Homo sapiens: one gene and its partner. The protein of the gene in region 1 interacts with the protein of each later gene in a biochemical or structural test. Each region holds a gene or a part of one and is shown in the gene's direction. Other genes may lie near its edges. The genes, in order: PJA2 and PRKAR2A.

The links.
Region 2: the proteins of PJA2 (region 1) and PRKAR2A form a complex in vitro, tested with the Homo sapiens proteins (one study listed by BioGRID).

What each region holds. Positions count from the first base shown.
Region 1 is NC_000005.10:109,374,416-109,391,011, reverse strand, and holds part of PJA2 (E3 ubiquitin-protein ligase Praja-2), read left to right. Parts: intron 1-7,491; 5' UTR 7,492-7,578; coding exon 7,579-7,609; intron 7,610-9,308; coding exon 9,309-9,509; intron 9,510-11,757; coding exon 11,758-12,808; intron 12,809-16,596.
Region 2 is NC_000003.12:48,754,453-48,771,048, reverse strand, and holds part of PRKAR2A (cAMP-dependent protein kinase type II-alpha regulatory subunit), read left to right. Parts: intron 1-5,699; coding exon 5,700-5,801; intron 5,802-5,970; coding exon 5,971-6,045; intron 6,046-14,604; coding exon 14,605-14,670; intron 14,671-16,596. UniProt on the Homo sapiens protein: Regulatory subunit of the cAMP-dependent protein kinases involved in cAMP signaling in cells. Type II regulatory chains mediate membrane association by binding to anchoring proteins, including the MAP2 kinase.

The sequences.
Region 1 (16,596 bases):
TTAAGTCCAGGAGCATCTGTAGTTTGAAGTAGACAGTAAGAGTGTAGGTTACACTTTGATATAAGGACAAGCTGAAATGGACTTGCCCAAACATAAACCAAAACCAGACTTCTGTGATGTTAAGACAATCTACTTGCAATATAATTGCCTGCCAAAAGAAAACTTAAAATACTCATTAGAGAAAGGTAAGTTATTTAGAGCTTCTAGGAAATATCATCCAGCATACATCAAGGATACATTTTGTAATTTCTAGGAAAACCACTAAGATAATGATATTTTAAAGGATGTATCAAAAAAGCTAGCAGATGAAATGGAATAATAAAAAAAAATTACCAAGGAATTCAAGAACGGAGGAATAAAGGAACAAAGGACAGGTGAGATGATTGAAAATAATAGCAAGATGGTAGATTTAAACCAGACTACATTGGTAATTATGTTAAATGTGAATGGATTAAATATTCTAACAAAAAGAGAAAGATTATCAGACATTATATATAAGTGAGTAAGACCTACCTATATTCTATTTATAAGAAAAGCACTTTACAAGTAAAGGCACAGGTAAAATGAAAAGATGGAATCAGTATTGTTGCAAATACCAAAAGAAAGCTGATGTGGCTATATTAATACCAGACAAAATAGATTTAAGGAGAGAAGTGTTATGAGAGATAAGAGAAAAAAAAATCATGATGAGTGGGCCAATTTATCAAGAAGACATAATTCTAAATATGTTTTCACATAGTAACACAGCTTCCAAATATGTAAGACAGAAGCTAAAATAGCTAAAAAGAAAGGTAGATCTGTATTCCTAGCTGGAGATTTTAAATACATTCAAAGTAACTGGTAGAACAATAAGATTTAAAAAAGTTTTAGTAAAGGAATAAGAAATTTGAATGGTATGATTAATCAACTTAACCTAATTGACATTTATAGAACATTATATTCAACAACTGAAGGCTTTACATTATTTTTAAGTGCATATGGGACATGTGCAAAAATATTCTGGGTCATAAAGTAGTATCATTAATCTTCAAAGAATTTAAATCATACAATGCATGTTTTCTGATCACTATAGAATTATATTACAACCCAATAACAAAAAAAAAAAAATAGACTGCAAATATTTGGAAATTAAGCAAGACACTTCTGAGTAGCCTGTGGATGAAAAACAAAGTCACTGTGGAAATTAGAAAACATTTTAATCTGAAAAATAATAAAAATAATACGTATCAGAACTTTTGGAATACAGCTGAAGCAATGCTTAGAGGTAACTTTATGCTTTAGATGTATAAATTAGTAAAGAACAAAGGTTTACAATCAGTAGTCTAAGCTCCTATCTCAAGGGAGCAATGAATTAAACCCAAGGAAGTAGAAAGAAGGAAATAGTATAAAAGTAGAAATCAATGAAACAGGAAAGTTTTACAGTCAGTTAGTTAAGAAAACTTTTAAAAAATGAAAACCTGTAATGACCTGATTAAGAAAAATGAGAGAAAACACAAATTACTAGTAACAGGGATGAAAAAAAGAGACTTCACTACAGATCCTCTCTATATTAAATTGTTAATGAAAGGGAATTATGTACAACTTGATAATACATTTGACAACTTGAATGAAAGGTCATAATCCCTGAAAAACACAGTTTAGTCAGCTGACATATAAAGAAATAGAAAATCTGAGTTGTTCTGTGTCTATTAAGGTAGTTGAATTTATCAAAAACCTTTCCACAAAGAAAATCCTAGACCTGATGGCTTCACTGACAAATCTGCCTTACATTTAAGTAAGATATAATCCTGGGTTTACACAGACTCTTCTAGAGAACAAGAAGAAGATAGAAAGATTTATTTGCATATTTTATGACTTTAGTATAATCTTGATAGGAAAACCTGACAAAAGCATGACGAGACTATTTTAAGCCAATATTTCTCATGAACATAGGTAAAAGAATAATCCAGTGAGATATAAAAGGGTTAATGTATTGTGACCAACATGGATTTGTTTGGGGAATGTAAAATAGCTTTCTAATAACATTTGTCATAGTTTGTCATAAATGCATTTTGTCATAAAGTTTGTAGTTCTTAATTTATATCTCAGTTGTGATAATAGGTGTAAATTATCAAAATTCCGTGTGTCTAAGGAATTCATTCACTAAAAGGAAATGCAGGGTAAGTTAATTATACAAGACTGATTTAAGAGGAATTTTAAATGTTTTTAGGGCATTTTGGAGGCATATATGTAAATATAAATATGAGAGAATAAAAAATATTCTAATGGACTTGGAAGAGTAACCAAGACTTTTCCTTCAAGTAAGGATCAAATTGTATTTGATTCTCAACCTTTTTTTTCTAGAAAAGATACTTTAAAAGTGAGTTATTTCTGGCTCCCAGCAGATGAGTCATAAGGGTGTAGATCCACGCTATCAGTTGAAACCCTTCTTCTGGAAGTTTAGCTGATTTTTGTCTCCCTGTGCCTAAATCTTCATTTTAATTTACATTGTTTGTATTTGTTACCTGTTGCAGGATAAGAGAGTAGAGTAACTTGTTGTCCTGCAGTGGACATAGCAACTCAGACATTTATCATCACATAGTCCCAGTGGGTTCGAAATTCAGGAGCAGCCTGGTTGCTGATTTTGGTTCAAGTCTCTCAAGAGGTTGCAGTCAAATGTAGGCTGGGACTGCAGTCATCTGAAGGGTAATGCACTAGGGCATTACCCTTTCCAGGTTGCTCATCCATGTGGCTGTTGCCGGAAGACCTTAGTTTTTGTGGATTTTGTCAGGAACGGTCAGTATTTCACCATGTGGGCTTTCTGTGGGTCTACTTGAGTGATATCATGATGTGGCAGCTGGTTTCTTCCAGAAAGAGTGAGCAGAGAAATTAAGGAAGCCACAATCCTTTTATTACCCTATTCTTGCACATCACACACAGTCACATCCATCACACTGTCTTCATTAGAAACAAGTCACAAGAGAGGGCTCTAATACTGAGAGCAGTTTATTAACTTGCCTAAATGAAGTTTGAATCCATGTGTGCCCAAATACTTAGCCCTCTTTTTCCATTATGTGACCACATTTCCATCAGAGAAAGGAGCACAGAATTATCTCATTCATTCATTCGTTTGTTCAGTAACTGTTTAAATATACTGTCAGACAATGTACTAGACAAAGTGTATGTAAATAAAAAATAAACAGGCCTTTGTCTTTAAATTCACTAGTTTACTGTGAGAAGTGTACCTTACATGTCCATGTTCTTCCTTGCATTCTTTAAAGATGATTCCTATTGTCTGTCCAGATCTGTTGGCATAATATCCTGGTTGAAATGATAAAGTGATTACTTCTAGGTTAATAATTCAGAGATCCAGAAATTAATACGTCCTTGATTGAGTCCTTTAATTCTTAGCAACACGTTTATATATTTGTTTTAGTATTAGTAAGAAGTATGTAAAAACCCCGAATTGTTTGAAGTGACTAATTGTCACAAGTAGAGAGCAGTCTGTTATAAACATGTTAGGTGAATAGTACCTGGAGGAAACAACTAATCAGCAAAGGAAATGTCTATTTAGAGAAAAACTAGGTGTTCCCAATTTACCTTAGCTACAAATTTGGACTGATTAATCATTTTAATCTTGACCCTAGCTATGGTCTTTATTCCCTACTTATCTCTTCCCTGTTTTGCTTTTTTTCTTATTTTTTATACTTAGAGATAGAAAGTGGTAGACGGAATATAGAGGTCTCGGATTAAGTAGAAATAATTAGTATCTACAGAGAGATTCTAGTCTATATTCATAACACAAGAACTACTATTAAATAATAATCACAGAATAAGAAAGTATGAGAAATTAAAAAGATTGTTACAGAGAGTAATGACAGGCTAAGAGAATAAGGAAAGGCTAAGGGAAAGAAGTAAAAATGAGTGAAATCTCCCAGTCTGTAGAGTGAAAATATGAAAGAAAAGTTTAGAGACAAATGATTAACCCATTTGGGCCAAATAAAGAAAAAGTAGTGAGGAAAAAGATGTATTTGAGACGTGTACAAGAGTCTCTAAATTAAAATAGCTCTTCCAGTGCTGTGTAGGAAAAATTTAAACATGGCCTGCCCCAAACAAGTCTTTGTGAAATTATAGAATACCAGCTATTTAGATAGACCCTAAATATTCCAGACAGAAAAATTTGGTGTTTCTACAAAATGAGGATAAATAGGTAGACAGGTAGGACACAGTGCCTTTCAGAGTTTAGAAAAAATGATTTTGTCTTGAACTGTACTAAAGTATGAGGGAGATAGTATTTTCAGATGTCCAAGGACTCAGTGTTTGCCTCCAACATATACTTGTTGAAACCATTATTTGAGGATCTTCCAGTAAAGGGAAAAAAAAAATGATAAAAACATGGAATTCAAAGTAGGGTACTTAACCTGAGCGGGTAGTACAATCAAAAGATTTCCACAGAAGTAGCTGATTAATAGCCCTTGAAAACACGTAGACTAAATTTAGATCAGGATGTTAGACGGCTCCGAAGAGTATCTTTAAGAAGAAAAGTGGAATCACATTAAAGAAAAGTTTAAGAAACAGGGTGATTTCCATGATTTCTGTACTGTTTCCAATTCCTTTCCTCTCTTTAGTAGCATTCCTATCAGGCATTTGCACCAACCATGCTACCAAAGGTGCCGCCATTCGCCATTATCCTCCATGTTGCTAAGTGGTCAGTGATAGGCCTTCATCATACTTTAACTTTTGGCACGATCAGTTCTGCCTAAAACACTTTCTTCACTTGGTGTTCACACTTCAGTATTTTTCTTTTCTCTCACTGCCCTCTGTTGTTTTTTCTGCTATAGGTTAAGCATCCCTAATTCAAAAATTTAACATTTGAAAAATGTTCCAAAATCTGAAACTTTTTTTTTTTTTTGAGACAGAGTCTCACTGACCTCAGGTGATTGCTTGCCTTGGCCTTCCAAAGTGCTGGGATTACAGGTGTGAGCAACTGCACCTGGCCCCAAAATCTGAAACATTTTTACTGCCAATATGGCACCATAATTTTAACATTCCACACATCAGTACTTAACAGAAGCTTTATTTCATGCACACAATTATTAAAAGTATTGTATAAAATTACTTTCAGACTGTGTGTGTAAGATGTGTAGGAAACAAGTGAATTTTCTGTTTAGACTTGGATGTCATCCCCACGATATCTCATTATGTATATGCAAATATTCAAAGATTTGAAAAAATCCCAAATCCGCACTTCTGGTTCCAAGCATTTTGGAAAAGGGATACTCAATCTCTGCTTCTTTTTCCCTGGCCTCTTCATATTTGATTTTCTCAGGGCTTAACTTCACTTCTCCATGTACACCTAGAGATCTCATCCAAGTTCATACCTGTTTTGGTATAATCTATACACTGACAACTCCCAAATTATACTAACAGCTCATAATTCTTCAGTCAACACCAGACTCCTATTTAATATTTCCATTTGAATGTCTAATAGATATCTCAAACTTAACTCATCCAAAACTGAACTGAATATATTTTCTTCAAATCTGGCTCTTCCACAATTTTTCCTACATTAATTGAAATTTACTCCATTTTTCCCATTGCCCAGCCTGTAAAACCTGGAGTCAACCTCGACCTTCTTTCATATCCTATATTAGTAAATTTTGTTGATTGTATTTTTACAATATGTCCAGAATCTGGTCATTTCTTACCATCTTTATTTTAACCCTGGTCCAAACCACTATGATCTCTTACCAGTATTATTTTGATAGCTTTTTAACAGTGCTCCCTGCTTTAGACCTCATTCCTCTTCATGCTATTCAATACAGTAGCCAGAGCATTCTTCTTAAAACAGAAGTCAAATATCTCTTCTGTGGTCAGAACTTTGATGGTTTTCCATCTCAGAATAAAACGCACATTTCAGCCAGGCACTGTGGCTCATGCCTGTAATCCCAGCACTTTGGGTGGCCAAGGCAGGTGGATCACGTGGTCAGGAGTTTGAGACCAGCCTGACCAATATGGTGAAACCCTGTCTCTACTAAAAATACAAAAATTAGCCGGGCATGGTGGCACACGCCTACAGTCCCAGCTACTGGGAGGCTGAGGCAGGAGAATCACTTGAACCCGTGAGGTGGAAGTTGCAGTGAGCCGAGATCAAGCCCCTGCACTCCAGCCTGGGCGACAGAGCAAGACTCGCCCTCAAAAAAAAAAAAGTTAAAACACTGTTAATTAGCACCTATGTTTTTGCCAGTATGTTAAGATTATTATTATTTTTATATTCCTTTTCTCTTTAGCTGTTGCTAACAGCCTCTTTTGATTCAGATACTTTAAAGGATCATAACTTGTTACTGAATTTATAAATTATATGGGTGAATGTGGGTTTGTACTCTTACGTATGTTAATATATATCTGTCTGTGATTAGACAGGTAACATATAAATTAAACTCATTTGCAGAGCTATTGCATTAATGATGAGCAATTAGCAGTAGCTCAAGTGTTTAAATAAATAAGGTGTTTAAATAAAAACTTAACCAAACTTTCAAAAAAACCACAGGTTGCAACTTCTCAAATAGTACTTTTCAAATAGTAAATAAATGCATTAATTTCAAAACAGAAGTTCTTTTTGTATTTGTTCCATGATAAATTGTAGTTTTTCCTGATTGAAAATAGGTTCTTATTTGGGATTAAATTATCTGATCAACTGACTATTGCAAAGAATAAATACATCATTATTTACACACATTAATTATTGTTATAAGCCATTACACATTTTTAAAAAATGAAGTTTGTATTCTTACAGTTACCTTTTAGCAATTCCAGGGCTAAAGGAACTTTACTGCTTGACAGAGAAGCAATGATAGCACAGTGTAGTAGACTCCCAAATAGTTTGGTTACATACCTGAGTCAGTACTTCTGATATTTTTGTTTGTTTACTTACAAATTATGTATGTGTTGTTGTCATTGACAGTCTTAAGGATGATATATACTTAGGCAAGGTTTATCAAGAGCAGATGTAAATCTGTATTTCACATAGCCATTTTGGTATTTCTGAGAGTTTTTGATTGGCTTGTCAAATTGTGTTGTATTTTTCTTGTTTTTATTTATTTTTGGGACGGGATCTCACTTTGTCACCCAGGCCTGGAGTGCAGTGGCATGATCTCGGCTCACTGCAGCCTCCACCTCCTGGGCTCAAGCAATCCTCCCACCACAGCCTCCTGAGGGACTAGAGGTGTGCACCACCACGCCTGGCTAATTTTTGTATTTCTTGCAGAGACAGACTTTCACCATGTTGGCCAGGTTGTTCTCGAATTCCTGAGCTCAAACTGATTTGCTCGCCTTGGCCTGCCAAAGTGCTGTAATCTAAGGCGGATCACAGGCATTTGCCACCATGCTGGCTACATCACATTGTATTTTTCTAAGTTTTATTATAAGACTTCACTAGGAGGAGCAGAAGTATCAGTTTTGCTATTTTTGTGCTTTTATTAATATATTGTTCAATTCATTGTTTCTTTGTAGGAATCTTCTGCGGCTTGTCCATAGTGTGAATAAAAACTAAATCACATCTATAATTCTACTGAACTGGTCACACAGACGCTGCCATATATGTCACAGTACACTGAAAAGGAGCCAGCAGGTAAGGAAAGTCAGTTCTTCTACATTGAGTACTTCTTGTTTTTTCCTCTGGGTACCTTGAGTACCAGTAAGTGACATATGATCATCTGACCTGTGGTCTTACTAAAAGGCTGGTTTTGATCCATATATTGAATATTTGTAAAGCTTAGTTTCTAATTTTTGATAGGTAAAAATAGAAATTCTGGTATTTTCTTTCCATACCCATTTAGCTTGGAAAGCTTTATGCTTTCCACTTCGGAGACTATTCTTTTGGTAGAATTGTTAAGGGCATTGGTTCTGGAGTCATACTTTTGGATTATTAGACAAGTTATCCAACACTTAATTTTAACTTTAATTTTTCAATTTTTAAAATAGAATACAATATCCACCTCAAGATTACTGATGGGATTAAATAAGTGTAACACTTGATATTATTTATACTCGATATGTGCGTGTATTATAAATACATGTTTGTTTCTGTTTCCTTCTTGGAAGTGATTATATTTCTTATTTTAATACAACTAAGAAATTATGTAACTGTTTCATTCATTCATTTATTCATTTTTTTTTTTTTTTTGAGATGGAGTTTCGAACTGTCACCCAAGCTGGAGTGCAGTGGCACAGTCTTGGCTCACTGCAACCTCCGCCTCCTGGGTTCAAGTGATTCTCATGCCTCAGCTTCCTGAGTAGCTGGAATTATGGGCATGTGCCACCACGTCTGGCTAATTTTTGTATTTTTAGTAGAGACGGGGTTTCGCCATGTTGGCTAGGCTGATCTCGAACTCCTGGCCTCAAGTGATCCGACTGCCTCATCCTCCCAAAGTACCGGGATTACAGGCATGAGCCACCATGCCCAGCAACTGTTGCATTTATTGACTATACCATATGCTGTGAGAAAATATTTTGTTTAGTTGCTGTGTAGTACATGTAATGTATAATTGACTAAGCAGACTTACACTTAATATATATATGTGTGTGTATAATAATGTACTACTTAGTGAAAGTTGCTGCTGTTTACTACTGTATACCCCTCAGTCAACAAAACTTAATTGTCAAGTCATGTAAATGTTGATGGCTTTTCTTACCATAACATATACCATTTATTGGTAGTTTTGAAGGCAGGGTAGTATGTGTTTGACCTGGCTCATTGCTGTTTTCTTTTGGATAGTTTTATCTGACGTTAATCTTTGGAACATATTTATTGTGATCTAGTTGATTCTTCATGGTACAGATACCATTTAAAGAGGTTACTTGTTATCTTTGACATAAATGTTTTCATTCTTAAAGTAATTGAAACCATCATATCATAATGCTAGTAATTGATTCATCAAATATGTATTGAGCACTTATATTAATATAATATATAAGGTACTTAATTTGGAAGATCTCCCATAAAGAGCTTTGGCAGTATAATAATTTGGCATATGAAAAATATTTTTTGATAGGTTTCATTATAAAAATCTGAAATACCTTAAAGAAACCAAATTTTAAAACATATTTTTTGAAGGGAAAAGGCCACTAACTCTTATTATATAGTACTTCATATTTAATTTTCTAGTGTGTGAAGAATAATGTTTTATAGTACTAGTAAGGTACACTTCATGTTCAGAAGCATATGATTTGATAAATAATAAAATATAAACTGAAGTAGTTTTCCCCAACAGGTTGCAAGAATAAAGCTCATTGCTGTTCCTGTTTTAATTTTTTAACTTTTTTTTCAGCAATGGACCAAGAATCTGGTAAGGCTGTCTGGCCCAAACCAGCAGGAGGGTATCAGACAATTACAGGCAGGAGATATGGAAGAAGACATGCTTATGTCAGTTTTAAACCATGTATGACCAGACATGAAAGAAGCTTAGGTCGGGCTGGTGATGACTATGAAGTGTTGGAACTAGATGATGTTCCAAAGGAAAATTCCTCAGGTGTGTAACATTTAATTATTTAAAGGTTATTAATAGTTATATAGGAATTGATCTTATAATTAAATTTTTGGGTGGGTATTATGCATGTCTGTGAGTGTAAATGCAGCACACTTCCTATCAAGAAATTCTATTTTGAAATTCTTATTGAATTTAATATTAATGGTGTATATATTTAAACATTGTAGAAGAAAATAGAATACAGCCAATCATTAAAATATAACCACACTCTCATAGTAGTGATTACGTTGTCATAACCTCCAGCCAAAGGAAATCATCTTTGAATCAAAAAGATATATTTTGAAATTTTTAAAAATGTGGATCAAGTAGAGATATTTTTTCCCTGCATATAATATTTAAATAACTTTTCTTCTTCTTCTTTTTTTTTTTTTGAGATGGAGTCACGTTCTGTTGCCCAGGATGGACTGCAGTAGTGCATCTTGGCTGACTGCAACCTCCATCTCCCAGGTTCAAACAATTCTTGTGCCTCAGCCTCCTTAGTAGCTGGGATTACAGGTGTTTGTCACTGCACCCAGCTAATTTTTGTATTTTTAGTAGAGACAGGGTTTCACCACGTTGGCCAGGCTGATCTCAAACTCCTGACCTCTCAAGTGATCCACCTGTCTTGGCTGGCTTCCCAAAGTGCTGGGATTACAGGTGTGAGTCACCATGCCTGGCGTTCTTTTTTTTTTTTTTTTTTTGAGATGGAATCTTACTTTGTCATCCAGGCTGGTGTGCAGTGACGTGATCTGGGCTCCCTGCAGCCTCCACCTCCTGGGTTCAAGTGGTTCTCCTGCCTCAGCCTCCCAAGTAGCTGGGACTACAGGCATGCGCCTCCACGCCTAATTTTTGTATTTTTTGGTAGAGATGGGGTTTTGCCATGTTGCCCAGGCTGGTCTCGAACTCCTGACCTCAAGTGGTCCGTCCAACTCAGCCTCCCAAAGTGCTGGGATTACAGACATGGGCCATTGTGCCCGGCCAACTTTTCTTCTTTTAATTTTATCCTAAATTTAACTTGGCTTGTTTATTTTTTCATCATTTTACAAAATCCAAAGGACAAGGAAGGCTTATTCAATTAAAATTTCTTAGTTATTCAATGGTTTTGAAAAAGTATTTTGCAGCTATCCATGTACCATAATTGCACATTTTTGGACTGGATTTGTCTTCTTCCTCTTGTTCTAAGCAAACTTGACAAGACATTTCTAGATTATTTTTGCTGTCATATGTAAGAATCTGAATTACTAGCTAGGGTCATCCCATTGAAGAACCCTTCGTTCCCAGCTACTTGGGAGGCTGAGGCAGGAGAATGGTGTGAACCTGGGAGGCGGAGCTTGCAGTGAGCCGAGATCATGCCACTGCACTCCAGCCTGGGCCACAGAGCAAGACTCCGTCTCAAAAAAAAAAAAAAAAAAAAAAAAAGAACCCTTCGTACCATATATCAAAGAACCCTTCGTACCATATATCATGGCCGAACTTCAGTTATTTTACAATTCATGAATTTTTATTCCAGCAAATCTCAAATGTCTTCATTTTTTTTATTAGTGGTGATGCAAGATAGTTATGCTTAAAGTAATTTATAGATATGATTTTACTCATGTTTCAGAATTCTCACAATTATGACAAGAATCAACATATTGATCTCTTTGTTGTTTTTCAGTCATAACTATAACACATCTAAAGTAAACTTATTACAAATGTATTACAACAATTCAATTTATAATCTGTCGAGATACTGAGATATAATTTTGTGAATTGCCAACAAAACACAATAGGGTCTAATTTCTCTTAAATCTGTAACTATAGTTATTATATCTGTCATAAGTACTTTTGAAGGTTTTTTGTTTTGTTGTTGTTTTTACCTGCATATAATAAAGAAGGTAAGTTTGGAAATCACTGGGAAGCAGATTGGTTACCCTAGACTCCACTTACGAGAGGCTTCCCATTGTATAACCTCTCAAGAGCTTCTCCTTTATATGTCTTGCAGAAGGCATTAGATATTAGGATTTAGATAGAAAACTGCCAAAGCCATGTGAGGGAGATGATAGTGAAAGGCTGTACATTGACATAAATGAACTCATAGAGTAATCAGTCTGCATTCTCAGTTAAGGAGCATAGAAGTGCTTGGTAAATAAATTTACTCATGTATTCAAGTAGTAATAATTGGTATGATTTCCACTTAAGTGATAGTTATTACATAAAATTTTATCTAAGTTAATCCTTTAAAATATGTTTTCTTTTGTTTTTTATGAAGGTTCCAGTCCTTTGGATCAAGTTGATTCTTCTTTACCCAGTGAACCTATATTTGAAAAAAGTGAAACAGAAATTCCCACTTGTGGTTCAGCATTGAATCAAACCACTGAGAGCAGTCAATCCTTTGTTGCAGTACATCACAGTGAGGAAGGCAGGGATACCTTAGGAAGCAGTACAAATCTTCATAATCACTCTGAGGGAGAGTATATTCCAGGAGCTTGTAGTGCTTCAAGTGTCCAAAATGGAATTGCATTGGTTCATACAGACTCTTATGATCCAGATGGCAAACATGGAGAAGATAATGACCATCTTCAACTTTCTGCAGAAGTCGTGGAAGGTAGTAGATACCAGGAATCATTAGGCAATACAGTATTTGAGTTGGAAAACAGAGAGGCAGAGGCATACACTGGTCTTTCACCACCAGTTCCCTCATTTAACTGTGAAGTAAGAGATGAGTTTGAAGAGTTAGATTCTGTACCATTAGTGAAAAGTTCTGCTGGTGATACTGAGTTTGTCCATCAGAATAGCCAGGAAATTCAGAGGTCTTCTCAAGATGAAATGGTTAGTACGAAACAACAAAATAATACTAGCCAGGAAAGACAGACAGAACATTCACCTGAAGATGCAGCCTGTGGTCCAGGGCATATTTGTAGTGAACAAAATACCAATGATAGGGAAAAGAACCATGGAAGTTCTCCTGAACAGGTAGTGAGGCCAAAAGTTAGAAAACTGATAAGTTCAAGCCAGGTGGACCAAGAAACAGGTTTTAATAGGCATGAGGCGAAACAAAGAAGTGTTCAAAGATGGAGAGAGGCTTTGGAAGTTGAGGAAAGTGGCTCAGATGACCTCTTAATAAAATGTGAAGAATATGATGGAGAGCATGACTGTATGTTCTTGGATCCACCATACTCAAGAGTTATTACACAAAGGGAAACAGAAAATAACCAAATGACATCAGAAAGTGGAGCCACAGCAGGAAGGCAAGAGGTGGATAACACCTTTTGGAATGGCTGTGGAGATTATTACCAACTCTATGACAAAGATGAAGATAGGTAAGGTCACATCCAGTACTTTTTCCGATTGTGTAGTAAATGAAGTGGTTTCTTTCTAGAACCATGTTTGATGGCTGGGCTATTTGATATGATCAGGGAATTAGACATTTTGACTTACCAAATATTTTTATTTACTGAATGCTAACCATACATGCAAACTACTCATTAGAATTTTTCACAAAAAAATGTTTTTGAGGTTTTTAGTAGTTTACAGAAGTAAGTTCAGATAATGATTATTATTATAAAGGGATAGAGATGCTAGTTCATGGTATTTCAATTAATAAAATGTAAAATAAACATTTGTTGTATTTTTTAAAAACCTACATTAAGCCAGTCTGGGTTTAAAAAGTGATTAATATCACAAATTATTGATTGGTAATACTTCATTAACATTGCCAGTAGTGACTAATATCACTTGTTTCCCTCTTTATCTGTTCTTCCTGTGGCTCTTCCTATCACTAAGTTTATTTTTTACTTATTTTTTCTTAGCATTCAATTCTCATTAACAACTCTGTGTGGTAGATTCCATTATTTCCCTCATTTGTAAATAAGGAAACTGAGGCACAGAGCATTATATAACTTCCTAAGGTCACAGAGCAACTTAATGGTAGAGCTGGACTTTGAGTACCTAACTGGGTATTCCAGAGACTGTTCACCACTATTCTTTGCTATTTTCAACAGAACATAAAACTTATAATAAGCATTCTGATTGCTCTTACAAACCCGTATCTTTTTTTTCCAAACCATAAGACAACAGAAAAAGAAAAAAATGGAGAATTTCTTTGTTCAGTTGCTGAATTTCCATTACCCCAGTGTCCAGATTTTCATGAGTCCTTGTAAGCTAGTTGCATCCCTGACAGTGCTCAATTACAGTGCAATTGCAAGATTTTATTAGCTAGTGGAAATAATTGTGTGGTTTTTTTTTAGTTAGAAAGTACTATAAAGGAAGAAATTTACCATTTTGAATATGAATGCATTTTAATTCATGTCATAAAACAATTCATTTGATTTTCTTTGGACATATGAATTAAGCTACTATAATACAGATTGTGTAATTTATTATAGAAAATATTTAAAATATAATTTCTGCTGCTCTGTCAAAGTCTGTAAACTTTAAGGGTTAGTAAGTAATTTTTGTATGATATACTGTTTTTAAGCTAAAGGTAAAGTTTTTTTCAGTTCAAGCCCACAGTGTTTTATTCAGTATCCACACTTCTAAAAACAGAAATTGGCCACAAAGCCTGACCTGATGTTAACTTCCTGGATAAGCAGATCTGGATCTGAATTGAAATGAGGGTATTTTTTCAAATATTTGTATATTTTACTGCAGAAATATAGTTATGTTTGATTACTGTGTGTGGCCTGGACCATGTTGGGGTTTGTTAAGTAGTAGTTCTAAATCTGGGAAATATATATCAAAATTCCAAAACACATTTAGCCCTAAGATTTTGAAATAGATTGCAAGTCTCTAATATTATACCTCTAGGTTACTATTTTTAAAAAAAGACAAAACTTACAGTCTTTGATAATTTATTTTTTTGAAAGTGTAAGGTGCTTGTATTTTTTTTCCCCCAGTTACACTTTTTCTTCTTTAAGGAGAATCATTTAATTTGGCTATACCTTTGTCATTTTGGGCAAAATAAATACTTCTCTTCTGCTTGCTTTTTATAGTCAGTTATAATGTCTTATGATGAAGTTGATGAAATTGTTACATTGTTTGCCAACCCCTAGAGAAAGGTAGTCTTCCTGGCTCCTTGATTTTAAATTGATTTTCTTTGTTTTGGGGGTGGTCAGTGGTGGAAGTGTATTCTTTGCCTTGAAGGACCCTGGACTTTTCATAGTTATAAGGTATTTTCTTAGTTATTTGTAATTCTTATTCTTATTTTTAATTTTTTTCTTAAGTGATGTCAATATTCTGAACAATGATAGTTTTTTTTTTTTTTTTTTACAAACAATATATAGATGGGAAAAAACATTTACAGTTAATAGAAACTGTCCTTTTAAATTGCTAGTAATGTATTGACTACAGAGCCTGTGGTTAGGGTATGCCAAAATGATGGAACTACTTTAGGATCATTGTTTAAGACACATTGAAATGCTTAAAAGTTTCTTGTTTCGTTTTGTTTTAAAGAATCATAGAATAAATTCTAAAGGATAATGGTTCTGCCTAGGACTGTACTTATATTTTTATCCATAGCCTTAAGATATGTTTTACGATCTCAAAGTGTCTGTACAGTTTTCTGTACAGATTATTCTATTTCTGAACAGAAACTCTGTTTCTATGCTGCTGTGTCCTGTTCCTCTACCCTAATTCCCTGCAAAGGATTATAGTTGCCAGGGTGCCTTTTTAATATGGTGCCAGCTAAAGGTTGGAATTTAATAGCTGTACACTCCTATTTAGTTTCATTTTGCCCTTGTTCATCTCCCTGATGTTTCATTGTCATCCTCCCTAGTTCTTGTATTTGTAGATTGGAGAGATGGTGATGCTAGTCTTCTCAGGTTTTGGATGGAAAGTATAAGAGCTGCTGCTTAATTTGGGCCTGTGAACTTTGAGTTTTTTTGTAAAGCTTAAAAAGTTGATATACTTGAAAAGTTTTTTTTTGTCATGCTTATAATAGCCAAAGTAGAACTCATCAAGAATATAACTAAAGTTCATTGTGGCATTTTTATTTTTTTATTTTTTATTTATTTATTTCGAGACAGAGTTTCTCTCTGTTGCCCAGGCTGGAGTGCAGTGGCGTGATCTCGGCTCGCTGCAACCTCTGCCTCCTAGGTTCAAGTGATTCTTCTGCCTCAGCCTTCTGAATAACTGGGACCACAGGCATGCCATCATGCCCAGCTAATTTTTGTATTTTTAGTAGAGATGGGGTTTCACCATGTTGGTCATGCTGGTCTTGAACCTGTGACCTCAAGTGATCCACCCGCCTCAGCCTCCCAGAGTGTCAAGATTACAGGCGTGAGCCACTGCACCCGGCCAGCATTTTTAGATATAGGAATTTTGGCTACTTTTTAAAAATATGAATTATATATTCTTTTTAAGTAGAAAAGTATTTTAATGAATTCATGATTGCCTTCTTCCCTGAAAAATTCTAAATGATCATTTAATCACATCTGAAATGTTACACTCTGTGGGATAAACATTGCAGCCAGTAGCATTGCTCTGAGCTGTTTGACAGGTACTGAGCACCACCTTATTAAATTAGGATTCCAAGGGGAATTTTAATAGGCAGCATATAATTACCAGACTTAGAATTAGACCAAAGAGCTAAGGTTAATACCCTGCTCTTTTGAAATATACCCTGAGAAGTTTAGTAACTGTTTGAGGACAAGATCTTGAGTTTAAAAAAAACCTTTCAGCAATACTAGCATATCTTAACCTTGGGCCTAACTGCTCTGAAGAGAGGCATGCCATCTACTGTCTGTTCCTTACTTATAGCATTTGAGGTTTCTTGCAGAATTTTTGTGGCCTTAGGACTTAACTTTGCTTAAAATTTAAAAACCTTACTTAAGGTAAAATGTTGGGACAACTTACTTTGTTGATGATGTTGGGAAATAAAATGATTGTTAGCCATTTAGTTGACTTCAATATGATATATTAAAGGATTTGTTGAAATCTTAAGTGCCAGACTTTGTTCCAGGTGCCCTGTTAATACAAATCATAATGGTCCCTGTTCCCACAAGGTTCACTAGCTTTATGAAGAAGACAAAATATACGTATTTATTATTGTGAGGCTGAATTAAGCGCCTTTCCTGTTCCGTGTAGGTTACCTGAGAGCCACAAAGAAAGA
Region 2 (16,596 bases), on another chromosome or scaffold:
TCACCATGTTGGCCAGGCTGGTCTCGAACTCCTGACCTCAGGTGATCTGCCCACCTCGGCCTCCCAAAGTGCTGGGATTACAGGCAAGAGCCACCGCACCCGGCCAAATAACCCATTCTTGGATAATCTCTAAGACCAAGTCTCAATGAAAATTGAAAACTGTATATTGAGCTGTAAAACCACCTGCTTTGTGGCTGGGGTATGAGGATTAAATACATGGGCATAAGAGAAGTGACTCCCTTAGTGCCTGGTACAAGGTGGGTGTTCACAGAATGATGGCACAAGCTCCCCATGGCCATGGTGCTACTCACCACCCTTCTTTTCCTGAGACTTCCTTTCCTAAGACTCCTATTCTTTCTATTTCCTTGCCTTTGGCAGTCATTTCCTCTTCTCCTTGCTTTCTTAGGTCAGTGACCTATCAAGATATCCTTTTGGCCTCTACTTTTCTCCTGTTAATTGACTTGCTTTGCAAGCCCAGACTCTTCCAAAGCTTCAATACCACCTCTAGGAAAGTAACTCACAGAAGGTCCTCTCCAGCCTGACTTCTTCTTTGGCCTTGGAAATGCCTTCTGAGGTTGAAGTAGGGAGGATCTGGTGTCGTCACTGAGTTTTTCAAGTTGGATCCTACATTCCTGCTTTTATAATGGGCAGCTGCCATCACGGCCCCTATACGTAGTCTCTTTTGCTTTCTCTTGCTTTATTGAAAGTCAATAGAAGGTTTCCTGGGAAATTCCTGCAGTCACAGGAGAGAGTAGCACTCCTTTTCTCTTTTGAACTTCAGGGGTGTTTGCTTGCCTCTGACCACTTGCTGCCTGTGGGAATTTCCTCTTCACTGCTCGATTGGATGCTCATCAAAGGCTATGTTGATGTCTGGTGCTTTTTTTATATTCTCCACAGCCATGGGAACTGGCCTTGCACCACATGAAAAGAGAGTTTTGGGAAGTGTTAAAGCATGCGTAAAAAGGGGTAGAACCAGCTGGGTGTGGTGACTCATGATGTAATCCCAGTACTTTGGGAGGCCACGGTGGGCAAATCACATGAGCCTAGGAATTCAAGACCAGCATGGGCAACGTGGTGAAACCCTGTCTCTATGAAAAATAAGAAATTAGCTGATGTGGCGGCACATGCCTGTAGTCCCAGCTACTTGGGACGCTGAGTTGGGAGGATCACCTGGGCCTAAGAGGTCAAGGCTGCAGTGAGCTGTGATCATGCCACTACACTCCAGCCTGCTGAGTGACAGAGTGAGACTCTGTCTCAAAAAAAAAAAGTCGCTTGCCGGGCGTAGTGGCTCGTGCCTGTAATCCCAGCACTTCGGAGGCCAAGGTGGGCAGATCACCTGAGGTCAGGAGTTGGAGACCAGCCTGACAAACATGGAGAAACCCTGTCTCTACTAAAAAATACAAAATTAGCTGGGCATGGTGGCGCATGCCTATAATCCTAGCTACTCTGGAAGCCAAGGCAGGAGAATCACTTGAACCTGGGAGACGGAGGTTGCGGTGAGGCAAGATTGCGCCATTGCACTCCAACCTGGTCAACAAGAACGAAACTCCATCTCAAAAAAAAAAAAAGTCGCTGTAAGAGATATTTGTTGTGGTCGGGCACAGTGGCTCACGCCTGTAATACCAGCACTTTGGGAGGCCAAGGCGGGCGGATCATGAGGTCAGGAGATTGAGACCATCCTGGCTAACACGGTGAAACCCCGTCTCTACTAAAAATACAAAAAATTAGCCGGGCGCGGTGGCAGGCGCCTGTAGCCCCAGCTACTCAGGAGGCTGAAGCAGGAGAATGGCGTGAACCAGGGAGGCGGAGCTTGCAGTGAGCCGAGATTGTGCCACTGCACTCCAGCCTGGGTGGCAGAGCGAGACTCTGTCTCAAAAAAGAAAAAAAAAAAGAAAGATATTTGTTGTTTTCTCTTTAGTTAGAAATCTGTTGTTGTTGTTGTTGTTTTTGAGATGGACTCTTGCTCTGTCATCCAGGCTGGAGTCCAGTGGCATTATCTCGGCTCACTGCAACCTCCGCCTCCAGGATTCAAGCAATTCTCCTGCCTCAGCCTCCTGCATAGCTGGGATTATAGGCATGTGCCAACAGTACTGGCTAATTTTTTATATTTTTGGTAGAGATGGGAATTCACCATGTTGGCTAGGCTGGTTTCGAACTCCTGACCTCAAGTGATCCACCCACCTCAGCCTCCCAAAGTGCTGGGATTACAGGCGTGAGCCATGCGCCCAGCCGAAATATTGTTTGCTATTGCAATTGTACTAATCTTTGTTACACTGTAGGTGGATTTGTAAAATATTGGGAGTTAACTTTGCTGCCCTCTGTGTATTTTTTAATATTTATTTATTTATTTATTTTGAGACGGAGTCTCTGTTGCCCAGGCTGGAGTATAGTGGTGTGATCTCGGCTCACTGCATCCTCTGCCTCCAGGGTTCAAGTAATTCTCATGCCTCAGCCTCCCAAGTAGCTGGGACTATAGGTGTACACCACCATGCCCAGCTAATTTTTGTATTTGTAGTAGACACGAGATTTCACCATGTTGGCCAGGCTGGTCTCGAACTCCTGACCTCAAGTGATCCACCCACTTTGGCCTCCCAAAATGCTGGGATTATAGGTGTGAGCCACTGTGCCAGGCCTTTTATTTTATCTATCTATGTATCTATGTATGTGTGTGTGTGTGTCTGTCTGTCTGTCTCTCTGTCTGTCTATATCTATCTATCTATCTATCTATCTATCTATCTATCTATCTATCTATCTTTTGAGACGGTCTCACTCTGTTGGCCAGGCTGGAGTGCAGTGGTGCTCTCACACCTCACTGCAACTTCGCCTCCCAGGGCTCAAGCAATCCTCCCACCTCTGCCTCCCCAGTAACTGGGACCACAAGTGCACGCCACCACGCCTGGCTAATTTTTGTATTTTTTGTACAGATGGGTTTCGCCATGTTGCCCAGGCTGTTCTCAAACTTCTGGGCTCAAACAATCCACCCACCTCCCCACCTCAGCCTCCCAAAGTGCTGGGAATACAGTCGTGAGCCACTGTTCCCAGCCTGTATGGGTTTTTTTTAAATAAATAAATAAAATATTGGGGTTTTCTGTTTTTGTGGGGTTTTTTTGTTTGTTTTTTTTTTTGAGATGGAGTCTCGCTCTGTCTCCCAGGCTAGAGTGCAGTGGTGTGATCTTGGCTCACTGCAACCTCCACCTCCCAGGTTCAAGCGATTCTCCTGTCTCAGCCTCCCTAGTAGCTGGGACTGCAGGCGCGTGCCGCCATGCCCAGCTAATTTTTTGTATTTTTAGTAGAGACGGGGTTTCATTGTGTTAGCCAGGATGGTCTCGATCTCCTGACCTTGTGATCCACCCGCCTCAGCCTCCCAAAGTGCTGGGATTATAGGTGTGAGCCACTGCGTCCAGCCTGTTTTTGTGTTTTAAATAGAGTTGAGGTCTCATTGTGTTGCCCAGGCTGGTCTTGAATTCCTAGCCTCAAGCGATCCTCCTGCCTTGGCCTCCCAAAGTGCAGGGATTACAGGCATGAACCACCACACACAGCCTAAAATATTGTTTTGTTTTTGTTTTTTTCGAGGCAGGGTCTCGCTCTGTTACCCAGGCTGGAGTGCAGTGGCATGATCTCGGCTCACTGCAACCTCTGCCTCCCAGGTTCAAGTGATTCTCCTGTCTCAGCGTCCCAAGAAGCTGGGATTACAGGCGCCCACCACCATGCCTGGCTAATTTTTGTATTTTTAGTAGAGATGTGGTTTCACCATATTGGCCAGGCTGGTCTTGAACTCCTGACCTCAAGCGATCCGTCTGCCTCGGCCTCCCAAAGTTCTGGGATTACAGGCGTGAGCCACTGCGCCCAGCCCATTATTATACTTTCTGACAAAATGTATATATGTATAGTCCTGACAGCCTGAGGTGGAAGAAAGGTAGTTAACTTAGATACAAATAACTGCTTGCCCATTTAGGAATCTAAGACTAAGCAATTAACATTCTCACATGTATCTCCCTGCACATGTGTACACATATCTGAGAAGTGCCTGGTTTGGTTAACTGTCTTCTGATCAGAATCCATTACTTACTAAGCCAGGCACAGTGTTGTGTACCTGTAGTCCCAGCTACTTGGGAGGCTGAGGTGGGGAGATCACTTGACCCCAGGAGTTCAAAGCCAGCCTGGACAACATTGGGGGACCCTATCTCAAAATAAAACAGAAGGAATCCATGACTTGCTAGAGTCAAGGTATCTTTCATATGCCTGCCTTCCATCTTGCGTATTCCTCCCGTGTCTCTCCATTAACTTAAATCCTACCTCTCTTTCAGGTCCTAGACATTTTTGCTGCAAAATAATCTTTGATCACTCCTGCCTACTGTGATCTCCCCTTCTTACCTTGAAATTTATGTGGCACTTGTCTTCTGTAGTTTCATCAAGCACATTTCATATGCTCATATGCTGTCTTGAACTGTAGACTTTTTATTTTTATTTTATTTTTTTTTGAGACACAGTTTCAACTTATGTCACCCAGGCTGGAGTGCAGTGGCGCAATCTCAGCTCACTGCAACCTTAGCCTCCTGAGCTCAAGTGATTCTCCAGCCTCAGCCTCCCAACTAGCTGGGACTAGACAAACGCCACCATGCCCAGCTAATTTTTGTATTTTCTGTAGAGATGGGGTTTCACCATGTTGCACAGCCTGGTCTTGAACTCCTGAGCTCAAGTGATCTGTCTGACTCAGCCTCCCAGAATGCTGGGATTACAGGTGTGAGCCACTGCACCTGTCCTTGAAATGTAGACTTTTTATTCCTATGTATTTTGTTGTTGTTGTTGTTGTTGTTGATATTGTTGTTTTTGGGACATAGTGTCACTCTGCTGCCCAGGCTGGAATGCAGTGGTACAATCACAACTCACTGCAGCTTTGACCTCTCAGGCTCTGGTGAGCCTTTCACCTCAGCCACCCAAGTACAGACAAGTGCCACCATGCCCAGCTAACTTTTTTTGTGTATTTTTTCGTAGAGAGCGTGTTTCACCATGTTGCCTAGGCTGGTCTCATACTCCTGGGCTCAAGCAATTTGCCCACCTTAGCCTCCCAAAATGCTAGGAGTACAGGCAGTGAGCCACTGCATTCAGCCAACCTTCATATTTTGATATTTTATATTATCTCCCCATTAAGATTGTAAACTTTTTTAGGGTAAGAACAATCTAATTGTTCTTTTTTTAGGCAAGAACAATCTAATTGTTTTGGATTTTTTAAGTTTTTTTAAATCCTGGATTCTAAGGATTAAATGATTGTTTTATTCTCTCTTTTGGTGAGGTGTCTCTTTTTTTTTTTTTTTTTTTTTTTTGAAATGAGGGTCTCACTCTGTCACCCAGGCTGGAGTGCAGTGACATGATCTCGGCTCACTAGAGGTGTCTTTTTTGATATTGAACAGTGACAGTGAGCTCATAAATGTTTAGGTGTTTTCTGTTTTGGGTTCTATTTATGACCCATAGGTGGCACCTATTGAGTGCTAGATAGCAAGCAACAGCATGTGGGCATCTGGCTGGCTCAGGCTATAGGTCCTTTACTTCCAGTGATGACTCAAGATTGAAGTATCATTAAACACTTAATTAACACAGTAACTTACATATTCCTCTAATATTTGCTTTGGCCAGTTAATTAAACCATAGATGTTCCTGTATATAGGCATTTACTAGAATTTTCATATTCTTTCTTGTAGGACCGGGTGACTTTTAGAAGAATCATAGTGAAAAATAATGCAAAGAAGAGGAAGATGTTTGAATCATTTATTGAGTCTGTGCCCCTCCTTAAATCACTAGAGGTAAAGTGGCTTGAATAAGAATCTGTTCATGGGGATCAGGAAAAGCTTTTAAAACTATTCTGTTGTTAGGTTTTCAAATCATACTATTCTAATCCTATTTCTGTGCTGCATAGCTATTGTGACTTTCAATTAAGGTCTTTTCCTTTTATTTGTGAATTTGTTGTTTCAGGTGTCAGAACGAATGAAGATTGTGGATGTAATAGGAGAGAAGATCTATAAGGATGGAGAACGCATAATCACTCAGGTGAGTGAGGGCTTTACGCAGCTCCTTTCCTGGAAGTCACCCCTGAAGAACTAGTACATCATTTATCTCAAAAACTTCTTGCCGGACGCAGTGGCTCACGCCTGTAATCCCAACACTTCGGGAGGCTGAGGCAGGTGGATCACTTGAGGCCAGGAGTTCAAGACCAGCCTGGCCAACATGGTAAAACTCCATCTCTACTAAAAATACAAAAATTAGCTGGGTGTGGTGGCCCATGCCTGTAATCCCAGCTACTTGGGAGGCTGAGGCGGGAGAATTGCTGGAACCCAGGAGGCAAAGGTTTCAGTGAGTCGAGATTGCGCCACTGCCTCCAGCCTGGGCAACAGAGCAAGACTCCATTTCAAAAAAAAACCAAAAAACCTTCTATGTTCTCCCACTGTTGGGAGCTCTTATTACCAGGTAATAGATCATACTTCAGAGGACTATTATGTAGTCCTCTGAAGCTTATTGACGTCCGTCTTACTGACACGTGCAGATCTCTTGCTTCCTCTCACCTTTCCTTGGCTTCTAGTGTTTGTTCTTTTGATGTCATTTTCTTTTGACCTTAAGTAAGTTTCATCCATTGCTATTAGAACCTGGGGAAGGTTAAAGAGTTCTGTCCTCTAACTTTCTATATTTGACACAAAGGCATCCTTTTGGCTAATCTAACACAAATCAGAGTTCACAGTCTTCAGTGATTAACCAAATTTGTAAGATGTAAAGATTACTAAACAGTGGGCTAGATCATTGTAATGAGTACTGTCTGATAATTTTCTTTGTCCGCTGTGTTTGTATTTTTAATTAAACATAAATAGTATTGGACTTTTCCAGGTATAAGCTTATCTGCCTATGGTTCTGGCTCAAGAGCACGGAGAAGATACATGGTTGGTCTAGGTTGGGTGATATGCTTATCCTAGAACCCAGTACTGAGACTACGAGGAGGAAAGGCTCAGATTGGTCAGGTGTGGGTCCTGTGGGTGGAGTTGGCCCCACTAGAACACAAGGACTAATCAGACTTACCATAAAAGGGGAGAAAAAAGCTCCCTTGGAAGAGATAAAGGACTAACAAAAATATGATGTCTACTCTGAGTCACATCTCTAAATGTATTTGTTTTCTAGGAGCCGTTACTATTAATAATTCTTTTAATTAGAAATTGGAATATTCTATAAACATTTATTAAGATAGGTAGGACCAGATATGATAAGCACTATAATGAAGGAGAGTATGAACGACAGTGAGAACATAGAAATGGAAGTAATACATATGGTTTCATTGAGGAAATGCCATTTGAGATGGGCTTAAAAAACAAGTGCAATTTCAATGTTTGGGATCAGGGAAAGGTCCTTCAGAGCAAGAAAACAATATTAGCAAAGGCCAGTGGTGTGAGCTGTGTTTCAGAGCAGGTATCCTGGTATGGTAAGAATGTAGTGCTGAGATTCAGAAATGGGAGATGTTAACTGGCCACATTTGCTTCTGAACCTAAGGTGCTTTAAGTAACATTCAAAGGACCTTCAAGTCATCCTGAAGGTTCTAGGCCTGTCTCATACTGGGTTTTCAGGAAGTATGTCAGGAGATGTGAGAAGTCAATAGTGTTTTCTTCATGGTCTGTGCTCTTGAAGATAGAGTGCTATCTATCTTCAAGGTAGATAGGTAGTGGTACAGAATGGACATTAATTAAGATGATATTAAAAGGGGCTTATTGTAGGTCCCTTTTGTCAATGTCTCTCACTGGACCAAGGCTTCTCAAAGTGAGGTCCCAGGACCAGCAGCAATCAGCATCATCTGAGGATGTTAGAATTGTTAGGAATGCAAGTTCTGGAGCCCCCCACCAGACCTGCTGAATCAGAAACTACATTTTATGTTGTTTCATTTGTTTTGATCAGCTTTGTTACAGTGTATTTTACATACAATAAAATTACTAAGTTTAAGTGTACAAATCGGAAGAGTTTTGTAACCATCCCCAAGTGGTATTTCCATCACCCATACAGTTCCTTGTTTTGTATTTGCAGTCAGTACCCTCCCCCACACTCACATTCCTGGAAACCATTGATGTTTTCTGTCACTGTAGAAATTCCTTTCTACAATTTAGTATAAATGAAATCATGTAATGTATAGTCTCTGTGTCTGGCTTCTTTCTCTTAGCATAATATTTTTGAGATTTATTCGTGTTGTATGTATCAGTAGATCGTTCCTTTTTATTGCTAATAATATTTCATTGTACAAATGTAATTTTTTTTTCTTTTTGAGACGGAGTTTTCCTCTTGTTGCCCAGGCTGGAGTGCAATGGCGCAATCTCAGCTCACCATAACCTCCACCTCCCAGGTTCAAGCTATTCTCTTGCCTCAGCCTCCCATTACTTTTTCTTTTTAATGAGATACAGTCTTGCCCTGTTGCCCAAGCTGGAGTACAGTGGCATAATCTCAGCTCACTGCAACCTCTGCCTCCCAGGTTCAAGCGATTCTTGTGCCTCAGCCTCCCGAGTAGCTGGGACCAGAGGCACGTGTCACTCTGCCCAGCTAATTTTGTGCATGTGTGTGTTTTTTTAGTAGAAATGGGATTTCACCATGTTGGCCAGGCTGGCCTCCTTAGTAAATACTTAAGAGTGCAATTGCTAAATTATATTTTAACTTCATAACAAACTGTTTCTTAAAATGGCTGTACTGTCTTGTATTCCTACCAGCCATGTATGAAAATTCCAGTTTCTCTGCATTCTCACCAATAAATAGTATTTACAGCCTTTTTTAAAAAAATTACAGTCAGGGTCTTGCTATATTGCCCAGCCTGGTCTCGAACTCCTGAGCTCAAGCCATCTGCCCGCCTTGGCCTTCTAAGTGCTGGGATTATAGGTGTGCACCTCCGCACCTGGCCTTCATTTTCTTAATGGTATCTTTTGAAGAGAAAATGGTTTTAATTTTGACAAGTCCAGTTTATCATCTTTTCTTCTTTGTAGTTGTGTACTTTTGCTGCTGTATTTTAGGAAATCTTTGCAAAATCAATAATATGTTCTCCTAAGTTTACTTCTAAGACCAGCACTATTCAATAGAAATAATATGTGAGCCACATATGTAATTTTAAAAATTTTTGGTCAGGCAGGGTGGCTCACGCCTGTAATCCCAGCACTCTGGGAGGCTGAATAGCTTGAGGCAGATAACTTGAGGCCAGGAGTTCGAGACCAGCCTGGCCAACATGGCGAAACCTCGTCTCTACTAAAAAGTAATAAAAAAAATTAGCTGAGTTTGCTGGTGCACAACTGTAATCCCAGCTACTTGGGAGGTTGAAGCACGAGAATCGTTTGAACTTGGGAGGCAGAGGTTGCAGTGAGCCAAGATCATGCCACTTGCATTCTAGCCTGGGGGACAGAGCAAGACTTGGTCTCAAAAAAAATAAATAAATAAAAACTTTCAGTAGATATTTGAAATGGTGAACTTAATTTTAATATATTTCATTTAACTCAGTATATCTAAAATGTTGTTTCAACATCTAAGTGATATAAAACTTTATTAATGAGATATTTTACATTTTTAATACTGTCTTCAAAATCTAATGTATGTTTTCCATCTATAGCACATCTAAGTTTATACTAGCAACATTTCAAGTGCTCAGCCACATTTGACTCGTGGCTAATGTATTGAGCAGTACAGCTCTAGACAGTCAGAATTTTAGCTCTTACCTTAGGTCTGTGATCCATTTTGAGTTATTTTTATTGTTTTTGTTTTGTTTTTTTGAGATGGAGTCTCCCTCTGTCACCCAGGCTAGAGTGCAGTGGTGTGATCTCGGCTCACTGCAAGCTCCGCCTCCTGGGTTCACGCCATTCTCCTGCCTCAGCCTCCCAAGTAGCTGGGACTACAGGCGCCCGCCACCACGTCCGGCTAATTTTTTGTGTTTTTAGTAGAGACAGGTTTCACCGTGTTAGCCAGCATGGTCTCAGTCTCCTGACCTCGTGATCCTCCTTCCTCTGCCTCCCAAAGTGCTGGGATTACAGGTGTGAGCCACTGCACTCAGCCTTGTTTTTGTTTATTAGAAGCAAGGTCTCACTCTGTCTTTCAGGCTTCAGTACAGTGTGCAATCATAGCTCACTGCAGCCTTGAACTTCTAGGCTCAAGCAATACTCTTCCCTTAGCCTTCCAAGTAATGCCACCACACTAAGCTAATTTTTTTTTTTTTTTTTTTGAGACGGAGTTTTGCTCTTGTTGCCCAGGCCAGAGTGCAATGCCACGATCTCAGCTCACCACCACCCCCGCCTCCTGTGTTCAAGCGATTCTCCTGCCTCAGCTTCCTGAGTAGCTGGGATTACAGGCATGCACCACCATGCCCAGCTAATTTTTTTTTTTTTTTTTTTAGTAAAGACAGGGTTTCTCCATGTTGGTCAGGCTGGTCTGTGAACTCCCTACCTCAGGTGATCCGCCCACCTCAGCCTCGGCCTCCCAAAGTGCTGGGATTACAGGTGTGAGCCACTGCGCCCGGCCTACACCCAGCTAATTTTTAAATTTTTTGTAGAGACAGGGCCTCTCTATGTTGCCCATGCTGGTCTTGAACTTCTGACCTCAAGTGATCCTCCCACCTCACCTCCCAAGTAGCTAAGATTACAGGCTTGTGCCACCATACCTGACTACATTTTTGTGTTTTGTTTTGTTTTGTTTTGTTTTTTGAGACAGAGTCTTGCTCTTGTTGTCCAGGCTGGAGTGCAATGGCACAATCTCGGCTGACTACAACCTCCACCTCCCCAGTTCAGGTGATTCTTCTGCCTCAGCCTCCCGAGTAGCTGGAACTACAGGCATGCATCACCATGCCCGGCTAATTTTTTTTTATTTTTAGTAGAGAACAGGGTTTTTGCCTGTTGGCCATGCTGGTCTCAAGCTTCTGACCTCAGGTGATCTGTCCGCCTTGGCCTTCCAAAGTACTGGGATGGCGTGAGCCACCACACCTGGCCTACATTTTTGTTTTTTAATGACTTGTATAATTTTCACAAGTAATTTTCATGATTGATAGAATATTTAGCTTATTCTTAGAGTAATGTAGACAGAAGGTGGCTTTAGTTTTACAAAATCATGTTTTATGTTTTTGCTATTAAAGTACCATTGCATTAAACCAAAAAGATTCCCATATCCTGAAAATTAGGGCTTCAGTCATTCTTATGGTGGAATGTGGATCTTATATTATCTGTTGTGAAAAAGAGACATATAAGAACCTGATGACATGTTCACAAAGACCTAAAATGCAGTACAGTCTGGCTTCTTTACTGTTGAATGTAGAATGGAATGTTCTTTCTGTGAGATGTGTACACAGAGCCTATTAGTGAACTTGAAAAGCAGGATACTTGGCCGGGCGCAGTGGCTCATGCCTGTAATCCCAGCACTTAGGGAGGCCGAGGCAGGCGGATCACCTGAGGTTGGGGGTTCGAGACCAGCCTGACCAACATGGAGAAACCCTGTCTCTACTAAAAATACAAAATTAACTGAATGTGGTGGCACGTGCCTGTAAATCCCAGCTACTCAGGAGGCTGAGGCAGGAGAATCACTTGAACCCAGGAGGTAGAAGTTGTGGTGAGCCAAGATCGCGCCATTGCGCTCCAGCCTGGGCAACAAGAGTGAAACTCCGTCTCAAAAAAAAAAAAAAAAAAAGGGGCAGGATGCTCTTCCAGTGAGCTCTCTTTTCCAACTGGGTAGTCATCTCATTCTACCCTGCAAAATGACAGCAGTCCTACAAAGCCTGAACAGCCAGTATACCCAGAATATCCACCACTGGACAGCATGGAAACAGGAAATGTGTGTCTTGGCCCACACATTTAGCCTGTCCCAGCCTAACCAGGCTGTTTCATGAGATTGGAAATGCAAAAGAGTGCATCCCTTAACTGCCACAAAGATCAACTGTTTTCAGCTGATGGTTAAAATCATCAAAACATGGTTTTATTTTAAATTTTATCCCCTTGCATTGTTTCACATTATCATAATCCATTGTAGTGAAGTATTACCAAATCAGTAAAATTTAATGGACCAAAGTCCTTTCACTGTCCTTCATTTGGTCCAGAGGAAGAGGTGAACCAAGGCTTTTTGTTTCTCATGTATTCTAGATGACATTCTTTCCCATCTCCTCTCAACCCTGAATCTACCAACTACTCACGCTACCTGCTAGGGAAAGATTATTTATCCCCCAGGCTTCTGAGGAAAGTCATCCACAAAATTGGATAGTAATAGTACCTACTTTCTTAGACTTCTTTGGCAAAAAAAATGAAATGATACACATAAAGTACTCACCAGAGAGCCTGCTGGGAGTGAGCACACAGCAACATTAGCAGCTTCTATTCTATATGAGCTCCCCTGTTCATTCTCCTCAGGCCCTAAGTCATTCTTATCCTGTACACATACCCTAGTCTCTGCTGTCTTCTTCATTTTGTTTTCCTTTTCTCTTTTTTTTTTTTTTTTTTTGAGACAGTCTTGCTCTGTCGCCCAGGCTGGAGTGCAGTGGCACAATCTCGGCTTACTGCGACCTCCACCTCCTGGGTTCAAGCGATTCTCGTGCCTTAGCCTCCTGAGTAGCTGGGATTACAGGCACACACCACCACGCCTGGCTAATTTTTTGTAGTTTAGGTAGAGATGGGGTTTCGCCGCCATGTTGCCCAAGCTGGTCTCGAACTCCTGAGCTCAGGCAGTCTGCCTGCCGTGGCCTCCCAAAGTGCTAGGATTATAGGCATGAGCCACTGCACCAGGCCATTTTTTTTTCCTTTTTTCTTTTTTTCTTTTTTTTTTTTGAGATGGAGTCTGACTCTTTTGCCCAGGCTGGAGTACAGTGGTGCAACCTCGGATCACTGCAACCTCCACCTCCCAGGTTTAAGTGATTCTTGTGCCTCAGTCTCCCAAGTAGCTGGGATTACAGTTGTGCACCACCACTCCTGGCTAATTTTTGTGTATGTATGTATGTATGTATGCATGTATGTATTTTATTTATTTTTGAGACAGAGTTTCGTTCTTGTCGCCCAGGCTGGAGTGCAATGGCGTGATCTCGGCTCACTGCAACCTCTGCCTCCCGGGTTCAAGCTATTCTTCTGCCTCAGCCTCCCAAGTAGCTGGGATTACAGGCATGCATCACCACACCTGGCTAATTTTTGTATTTTTAGTAGAGATGGGGCTTCACCATGTTGGTCAGGCTGGTACCAAACTCCTGACCTCAGGTGATCCACTCACCTCAGCCTCCCAAAGTGCTGGGATTACAGGCGTGAGCCACCACACCTGGCCTGTTTTTGTATTTAGTAGAGACAAGGTTTCACCATTTTGCCCAGGCTGGTGTCGAACTCCTGGCCTCAAGCAATCCACCCCCCTCAGCCTCCCAAAGTGCTGGGATTACAGGTGTGAGCCACCGTGCCTGGCCTTTGCTGTCTTCAAAACACACGTACACTCCTTCCTTCAGTTTGTTTCTATTTTAGCTACCAGCCTAATTTCTTGCATAGCCAGAGACTTTCAAAGTGTGATCTAACAATATGGACTAAAATAAGCCAGATACAAAAAATATATGATTCCATTTATATTAAGTTAAGGAATGGCCAAAACCTACAAGGACAGAAATTAGATATAGTTACTTCATGGGTGGGAATGTGGTAGTTTTGACTGAACTCCGGAGGGAGCCTTTTGAAGAACGGATATATTTTCTATTTTGATCTAGGAGGTGGTTATACAGGTTTATACATTTGTAAAAAGTCATCAAGCCTTGAAATGTGACCACTTTAAATGGTGGATGTTATACACCTATCTAAACAAAAAGGGCTCAAGCACTATCCTTCACCACCTATCACTTGCAGATCTTTCCTACCACACAGATCTTCCCTTTTCACCACCCTCTTCTTGGTGAAGTACCTCTCCCTCTTTGTGACTCTGCCTCTGGCTCCTACTAAGTTTCTTTCATGGCTGTTCATCCTTTGTCAGCTCCTATCATGAAGCTGTTTGTGTAATGCTAGAACTTCATGGTGATTTGGCTCTGCTGGTTGTTAAGATACCTACCCAACATAGCAGGGCAGAAACCCACAGGCACCCCTTTGTAAAGCTGTGGCATTTACTCATATGGGGCAGTGATACGTCCTGGGACTAGATTAACTCAGAAACATCAGCCTAGCTGTGTATGGTGCCCACTTGGGGCTCTGTGTGATGGTCAAAGGGCATGAAGTTTGTGAAAGCCTCAGAAGTAGATTCTCAGTGAAGACAAAAGACCCACACAGAGTGAGAGTGCATGAGTAATAATGCGTTATCTGATGTAGATGGTGTTTGTTCCACAAGTTAATAGTGAGGGGTCAGAAACTGAAGTGTGCCTGAAAGCTGCTTCGCGTATATCTGCATGCCTGACTCAGACGTCCTCCCAATATTTGCTCAAATCTCACCTTCTCAAGCTCTTTTTTTTTTCCTTTTCCTAAGAGGCAAGGTCTCATTGCCTGCTCTGAATTTGTTTACTATTGATTCATTTGCAGAGTTAAAAAATAAATACAAATCAGAGCTTAAGCAGTGAAAAAGCAATCTATTTCTTTATTCCCCTTCAATACTACTTATGGCTCTGACCTGACCTCTCTTTTCTTTCAGGGTGAAAAGGCTGATAGCTTTTACATCATAGAGTCTGGCGAAGTGAGCATCTTGATTAGAAGCAGGGTGAGTTTATCAGTTTATATGTGATGGTGTACACACAAAAAGTAACTATTTGTTTTAAATAATGTGAAGTGTGTTGAATACACCAAACCATCATTGTTATGTGAGGTGTGTGACTGGCAAAGACCCATGTTTAAGCCCATTTAGTATAGATTTAGCATATTTAGATTAGATTAGATATAGATTTAGCATATTCTTATTCTTGCTCCCTTTGCCTCTGCTGTGTAATTAATGATTTAGGGAATATTGGCCTACAAATCAATAAGAAAAAGATAAAAACCCTAATAGAAAATGGGGGCTGGGGCCGGGCACAGTGGCTCACGCCTGTAATCCCAGCACTTTGGGAGGGCAAGGCGGGCGGATCACAAGATCAGGAGATTGAAACCATCCTGGCTAACACGGTGAAACCCTGTCTCTACTGAAAATACAAAAAAAATTAGCCAGGCATGGTGGCGGGCGCCTGTAGTCCCAGCTACTCAGGAGGCTGAGGCAGGAGAATGGCATGAACACCGGAGGCAGAGCTTGCAGTCAGCTGAGATCGTACCACTGCACTCCAGCCTGGGCGACAGAGCGAGACTCCGTCAAAAAAAAAAAAAAAAAAGGAAATGGGGGCTGGGCGCAATGTCTCACACCTGTAATCCTAGCACTTTGGAGGCCTAGGCAAGAGGATCTCTTGAGCCCAAGAGATTGAGGCTGCAGTGAACCGTGATTGTGCCACTGCACTCCAGCCTGGGTGACAGAGCAAGACCCTGTCTTTAAAAAAAAAAAAAAAGGAAAGAAAATAGGGAAATTATATAATAAAAAGAGATTGGAAGGGATGAACATGAAGAAAGCTTCCTTGTTAGAGCACTGTTAGAAGAGGTCTCTAGGATAACTGTGGTCATTTAATGGATGGTGTGACCTAGAAAACTGAGGAGCTGTAAGTAGGAGGAATGACTGTTACTGGTAAATCTGTCATCACCAGATTTTTCGGTTTCTTTTTTTTCTTTTTTGAGAATACAGAGTGTGTTAAAACAGTTATATATAATACTAAGTCGAGTTAATATGAAAACTTTAGCAAAATATATTGAGTAAAAGTTAATAAGTAGCCGGGCACGGTGGCTCACACCTGTAATCCCAGCACTTTAGGAGGCTGAGGCGGGCAGATCACGAGGTCAGGAGATTGAGACCATCCTGGCTAACACAGTGAAACCCTGTCTCTAATAAAAATACAAAAAATTAGCCAGGCATGGTGGCGGGCGCCTGTAGTCCCAGCTACTCGGGAGGCTAAGGCAGGAGAATGGCGTGAACCCGGGAGGCAGAGCTTGCGTGAGCTGAGATCACACCACTGTACTCCAGCCTGGGCAACAGAGCAAGACTCTGTCTCAAAAAAAAAAAAAAAAAAAGTTAATAAGTATGGAAAAAGAAGAATATTACTGTCTGTAAGATAGCTGGATTTGTTTTCTCTCTCTCTCTTTTTTTTTTTTTGAGTGAGTCTTGCTCTGTTGCCCAGGCTGGAATGCAGTGGTGCAATCTCAACTCACTGCAACCTCCAACCCCCTAGTTTCAATCGATTCTCGTGCCTCACCCTACTGAGTAGCTGAAGGTAGCTTGATTCTTTTTTATTTTAAGCTAGAGTGTCGCTCTTGTTGCCCAGGCTGGAGTGCAGTGGCGTGATCTCAGCTTACTGCAACCTCCGTCCCTGGGTTCAAGCGATTCTCCTGCCTCAGCCTCGCAAGTAGCTGGGACTATAGGCTCCCACCACCAAGCCCAGCTAATTTTTTGTACTTTTAGTAGGGACAGGGTTTCCCCATGTTGGCCAGGCTGGTCTGGAACTCCTGACCTCAGGTGATCCTCCTGCCTCTGCCTCCCAAAGTGCTGGGATTACAGGCATGAGCCACCGGCGCCCATGTGATAGCTTGATTCTTAATTAAAAGTAGATCTTTGAGA